2 linked regions of the Homo sapiens genome follow. The protein of the gene in region 1 purifies or fractionates together with the protein of each later gene. This does not show direct contact. Each region holds a gene or a part of one and is shown on either strand. Other genes may lie near its edges.

Region 1 (3,755 bases):
AAATGACAGCTGCAAGGAGAGGGAGGGGGAAGCAACTCTTCTAAAACATAAAAGGGTCATATGATATTTATGAAAAAATTGATTATTTCAAAAAGATTCACAATCCCATTCTCTAACACATAATCTATTTTTACTTTCCCGCATCCTATAACTTGGATCTTGATAAGACTCGATTCGTTGTTTTATGTGGTTTGCAATCTCAACAAAACAAAATTTGTGTTCTTTGACAAGGATAATGCATAATCCTGACTTCAGTCTTCCCTTTTAGTCAGAACCTACCTATTTAAGGTTATTTTCCATATTAACTATTGATGATCAAAATAAGTCTAACTCGTGTTTTTCCTAGTGTTTCATAATTTTAGTTACAGAAACGATGCAGATAAAATTAATCTAACATGCGTCTTCCTGACTCTAGTACGTTGAATCTGGCCAGAAAAACCACATTTGCTCTCTACGTAGGTAATATAAATCCATCATTAGCGAAATTGCTGCATCCCTTTGGACTGGGTCTCATTAGCAGAGGTTGGAGTGGCCACTGGCCGGCACACGACACTTTAGGCCAGCAGGGGGCGGGTAAGCTCCAGGGCACTCGCCCGAGCAGCAGGGGGCGTGTCTTCTGCTTCCTTGACGGACAGCTAAGGATGCGGGAGAGGATGAGGTAATAGGAGCCGGGGCAAGGAAGGAGTTGGGGTGCGCGCGCGTGTGTGTGCGACTGTGAGTGTGCCAGTGCGTGCGCAAGCCCCGAGACAATGCGTGTCTCCAGTTCGCGCTGCGGACACTGATCATGCTGCATTAAGGAAAAAAAAAGAGAGAGAGAGAGAAAATTACATTTGGGGGAAGGAGGCTGCAAAGTTGCGGCTGGGCGACAGTGGTGGTCCCGGGGCCGTGTCATGGCGGGTCGCTTCTCTGCATCAAGGAACCAGGGAAACACACGCGGGCGCGGGTTTGCCTTAGCGCCCTGCTTGGGAGGGGTGGTTCATTCTGGAAGGAACTGAGCAGAGCCACAGGCAGGGGGAGCTCTCCCAGCGGCGGGGACTGCAATTCGTGCGGCGAAGGGGTGGGGAGGGAGGGAGAGAGGGGAGGGGACCAGAGCGTGCCATTCCGAGCGCGGCCGTGCGGCGAGATCCCACCCCGGCGTCTGCAGAGGCCGAGGCGCAACTGGTGCGAGGGCTGGGTCCTTGCCTCGCCGTCAGCCCCAGCTCGCGGCCGCCGGGGCTCGGGCCGCGCGCCCGCCGAGTGGCTTTTGCAAGGCGGGGGCCTGTTTGCAGAGAGCCGGGCATTTGCATGAAGCGACTCGACCCCACAGAGCAGCGGCAGCAGCAGCGGACCCCGGCGGCGGCGGCGGCGCGCGGTCCCAGCCAGGCGGCCCCGGTGTCCCGGCCCCGGTGGATGCACGGCTGGGGAGGAGCCCATGGGCCGGAGCTGAGGCTGCCCGGGGCGGCGGGGCGCGGGGCAGGGGGCGCGGTCGAGGCCCGGAGGCGGCGGCGCAGGAGGAAGCGGAGGAGGTCGGGCGCTCGGGGCCCGGGAGGCGGGCCGCGCAGCGCCGCAGCCCCGGGCTCGCCATGCTCCTGGCCTCGGCCGTGGTGGTCTGGGAATGGCTGAACGAGCACGGCCGCTGGCGTCCCTACAGCCCAGCGGTGAGCCACCACATCGAGGCGGTGGTCCGCGCCGGCCCCCGCGCGGGGGGCAGCGTGGTGCTGGGCCAGGTGGACAGCCGTCTCGCGCCCTACATCATCGACCTGCAGTCCATGAACCAGTTCCGCCAAGACACGGGTGAGCCAGCCGCCCCTGACCCCGCCCCGCCTGCTCCCACCTTCCCAACCTGCCAAGGTACCTCCCTCCCTGTGAACCCACCTTGGCCACCTAGTCGGCACTTCTGTGCAGCAGTGTCACCAAGAGGTGGTGGTGGGAGGCGATTCACTCCGCTGAATCCTCGCAGGATCCTCCCTCCCCCTTAAACATCCATGCAAATAGTATCAGTGTTGTGGTTTTGCAAACCCAGCTTCAACCTAGTCGGTAACAATCCACTCCCCACCCCTTTCATGCCCCCGCTTTTCAGCAGTTGGTGGCCCTAAGTCTTTCTATGTAGAAATTCTAGGGCCGCCCCAGACTACAGGCAATCCCAGCCCTTCGCAAAGGCTTCCTGCCCTCATCCCGTGGCGGCCGGCACCTTGGCTGACCTGACCCTGTTTTGCTTCAGGCACGCTGGGGCTTGCCACACGTCCCCTCACCCCCGATCTCACTGCCTCTGCGTCTCCTGTGTGGGATGCCTCCCCGCAGCTGGGTCCTGGGTGTGGGAACTGGGGGAGGAAGAAGGGATTCCCCGGAGGTTCTCGCTACAGTCGGGTAAGGGAAGCGCCGGGCTCCCTGGGAGGAGAGACTAGGGCTGGGGTACCCTGGACGCCGCGGCATTGGCGAATGCCTCTGCTACACACTACATGCGCGGAAGCAACAGGCCGGAGCAGATGGAGAGAGGAGGGGGAGGCTCGGGGCTTCGGAATGCATGGCAGGGAAGCCGCTCCCTTTGTCTGCGGAGGAGGAGGACGCAGATTCCTAAGGAGAAACTGTCCCCAGGCTTCCTCTTGAAACCATAGCCTGTAAGGAACCCATGGTCTCCTGGAGCGCCAAACTCCTATCTTTTCATGAGAATCAAGTTGTCACTGTAGCCAGCACAAACCCGCTTCCCAGCTGACCTGCCTTTCCAGGTCAGAGCCAGGAAGGGAGCCTCCAGGATGGGGCCTTGGGGGGTGGGGAGTGGGGGTGCTGCCCAAGGGAGAGCAAAACTGCCTCTCTTTGCTCGGTCCTTGCTTAATCGATGACCCGGGAAGAGTTTCTGCCTCCGTCAGTGACAGGTGGGGAGGGGGCCATTGTTTCTGGAATTCTGGCTCGGCTTTCCCAAGAGTGCAACCGAGGAGCCTGGAGAGGCCGGTGTGCTGGGGAGGACGTAGAGAAGATGACTCGGAAAGGCCCTCCCCAGTGAACAGCTGTTTGAGCAGAGTCTCTCTGCTTCCTTGGAAAGCCCCCACATCCTGTGTGCTAATTAGGATTGTCATGGGAAAGGGGTATCTTTCCACCCTCATGTCCCCATCTTTAGTCATAACTCCCAGCAACCCCTTTGCCAAGGACTCTGCAGACACTGGCTGATTGAGGAGAGCTTTCTGGGGAGAGGATTCTGGAAGTGTTAGAATCTGGAGGGGCTTCAACCGTGTGTGGAGCTGAGGGAGACTGGGAGGAGCAGAGAATAGAGAGGAATGTGGGGAGATTGAGAAAGAGGATTAAGTGTGGCTGAGGGGGAGGGAGAGAATGTCATTGCGCAACTTGGGTAAAGGTTGTGGAGGTGAGGGTGGAGGCATCAGAAGGTGAGGGTGGAGGGGGTGTGTGTTGGGCGGAGCTGAGCCACGGAGGTGGGACCAGAGAGAGAGAGAGAGACCAGCAGTTAAAGCATCTGACAGGGGATTCCAGTCCTGGAAAAAAAAAAAAGCAGGTGTTACCTTTTCTATTTCAGAGTAAATCTCTACAGCATTTGGAAAACCACCCTTGTGACAGAAACGTCTCAGCCCCTTTCCCACATTTGGAAAGGGCAAAGGTGGAATCTGTGTTTGGGGGTACTTAGGATAGGCAAGGTATCTACAAAGGTTCATGACCCTTTCTACAGAAGCGAAGTTGTAGAGAAAACTGGGTGGAAGGAAAGAAGCTACGTTTCCCAGGTCTGATCACTCTTACCTGAGGACTGCCTGGTGGTGAGCAATTTAGTC
Region 2 (2,609 bases), on another chromosome or scaffold:
ACATCAAATGTGCCCTTATATTTTTAATGAATCTCATCCAAATGCTAATGCATAAACCTTGACAAGTAGTATAAATAAAACAAGAAAAAAATACAGCAATGTCTTTGCCATTCCCCAAAACAAAGCACACACTGCCGAAGATCATTAGTACTCACTGGTAACAAACTACATAGGGTTAGTTTGTATTTCCAATTCTAGAGCTGTAATTTTAAGGACAAAATGTACAATGATTGATTAAGAGTGCTATCTGTGTATATATAGGTATTATCACAACTCCTTTTTTTCTTCCAGATGAAGAAATTAATTGGGACCAATGTTTTTAGATCAAGGCATTTTAAATAAGCACTCTTGATTTCTGAACAAGAATTTCAACCAGCTAAATTGAGCAAAATAAAGTTAGTTAGGATATGAGGACATTATTCTGTTACAGTAATCTTCATGTACTCTCAAAAAAATGTAACACTTGCATAGAAATGTCACAATTAATGAAGGATTTTATTTGAAGATAAAGTCAAAATTATGGCACCGAGGAAGGTAATAAACATTTGAAATTTTTATTGATTTTTAAATTTAAAATCCAGTTTTAACCACAAAATTGTTTGAATCACAAGTGGTAATACAATGTCTTCAATATTTTTCTAAAGTTATTTTTCTATATAATAATAAGACAACAGCATAGCATATAGGAAGTTTTCATTCCAGTGGCTTTTTTATATATTTATCCTTCTTAGGAAGGACAAATTAAATTTTTTAAATTAAACTTTTAAAATATAACAACATCTAACAGAACTGTACAAAACAAAGAGACATTTTTTAAACAACTTGCCAAACTTACTTATGAGTGTGTTTTAAAAACAACTTTGTAAATGTCTGGGCAAAGAAGCAAGCTGTCCTCCCTTTACCTTCATAGTGAGTTTGTAAGGCTTTGTCTTTGTAAGCAGAAAGAGTAGACTGTGTTGTTTTTTGCCAAAAACTGTTTATACTTAATCTCACTGAAGTATTGCTATATGGAGAACCCATACTCTGATCAACTTGATTTTTTGTGTGTAATGCTTGATCTACCAGGTAACTTCCCAACTGCTCCTAATGCTAGCGGGCTAATCCCACATTATTATTCCACTATCATCCCTGCAGAAAGGTCTTGGTTTTGATGAAAATCAGCCCTTTCCTTACCTGCTACTGCCTCAAAAAGGGACCAGGAAGATTCTAGCTGGCTAATTCACTGTTCCCTTTGAGCAAGAAAACGGCACAGGGAGAAAAGGACTTATCTGGTGAGAGATTTGGCATATACCTTCAATGTGTGCCCTATAACACAACATTGTCTCCGATCTCATCTTTCTATCAAATGACTTCCAACACTCTTAAGTCTCAGGTATTCTTAAATCTGTATCATCAAACATGAAGCTTCTCTTGTTTGTTAGAGTAATTAATCTTTCTTTGGATTAAAGTTTCCCTTTGAAATAAAACCACCTACCTAATCTGACTGCTAAATTTCTAGCTTCTTTGTTTTAAATATGCTCAGGAGTCAACCCAAATTCTGCAGCAAATAAGTTTGCTTATTAACAAAAAAGTAAAAAAAAAAGAAAAGAAAAAAGATGACTAATTCTACAGATAGCTGTAAGGATGAATTACTCAAGTTCAAAATCAAATTCTGATTCTAAACACATAACAATTGTTTACATTCAGGATTAAGATGTCTTTAAGAGTTGAAACGACTTTGGAGATCATCCAGCCCAACTTCCATCCAGATATCACGCCTCTCACATATAGTAGTCTTCTGAATTATAAAAATTTATAAAGTTACTTCCAAAAAAAGCTACATAAATAAAAATTATCTATTTATAGAAATATCTATTTAGCAGTTCCATAATTTAAAATATTCAAATCAAATTGGGTAGGACTGGTTTGCCTCTCACTCCCACAGACTATATTTATACCTCAGACACAGCAAGTTACATTTAAACAATGAGTGTAGTACTACTTAACTAAAATGGAAAAAATAGTACTCTTAACATAATCCCTAATTTTTTCATGAACATAAAACTCCAAGTCATTTATGTGAACTATATCTCAATGTAGCTGTAGGAAAAATAAAAACCTGTGCTAACCTGGACTTTGGTCTCATTTAAGATTTGGTTCTGGAATGCAAATATGGTTTTTGAAAGCCCAATAAAATTAATTCTTGTATAGTCTGTATATATTGTTTACAAGGACTACAAACACTGCATCACAAATCGGAGGCTTTGGTAAATAACTAAGTGTCCAACATAGAAAATAACTATTTGGTCAAAAGTATAAAAGGTCTGACCTTATTTGAAATACGAAAAAGCTGAGTACTTGGAAGATACGTGAAAATACTCAGCATAGATATTATGAAAAGCTGAATAACAAAGTAACCTTTTTTCTCAAATTATTTCAGGCCACAGTATATAACGGAACTTATTGCTATTTGAAGTTTCATTAAAAATAGGTTCATATATAGAAGAAATTGTGTCAGTAATACCTCTTCACTAATATAAAATATGCCCCTTTTAGAAGACGTGTTCTCTAGATCTCATTTCTAAAACTCTGTATTTTTCTCATTTCTAAAACTTAAGTATCCAATCAAA

The links. Proteins that work in one complex are often made in the same cells at the same time.
Region 2: the proteins of DTX4 (region 1) and HLTF purify together in Homo sapiens (affinity purification with mass spectrometry, with the first as the bait; one large-scale study listed by BioGRID). This does not show direct contact.

Annotation. Positions count from the first base shown.
Region 1 is NC_000011.10:59,171,034-59,174,788, forward strand, and holds the start of DTX4 (E3 ubiquitin-protein ligase DTX4), read left to right. Parts: upstream 1-1,562; coding exon 1,563-1,773; intron 1,774-2,231; coding exon of another isoform or gene 2,232-2,412; intron 2,413-2,665; exon of another isoform or gene 2,666-3,464; intron 3,465-3,755. Other genes in the region: basic proline-rich protein-like, read right to left, coding at 889-1,697, 2,232-2,412. UniProt on the Homo sapiens protein: Regulator of Notch signaling, a signaling pathway involved in cell-cell communications that regulates a broad spectrum of cell-fate determinations.
Region 2 is NC_000003.12:149,029,587-149,032,195, forward strand, and holds the end of HLTF (helicase-like transcription factor), read right to left. Parts: 3' UTR 541-2,609; downstream 1-540. UniProt on the Homo sapiens protein: Has both helicase and E3 ubiquitin ligase activities. Possesses intrinsic ATP-dependent nucleosome-remodeling activity; This activity may be required for transcriptional activation or repression of specific target promoters.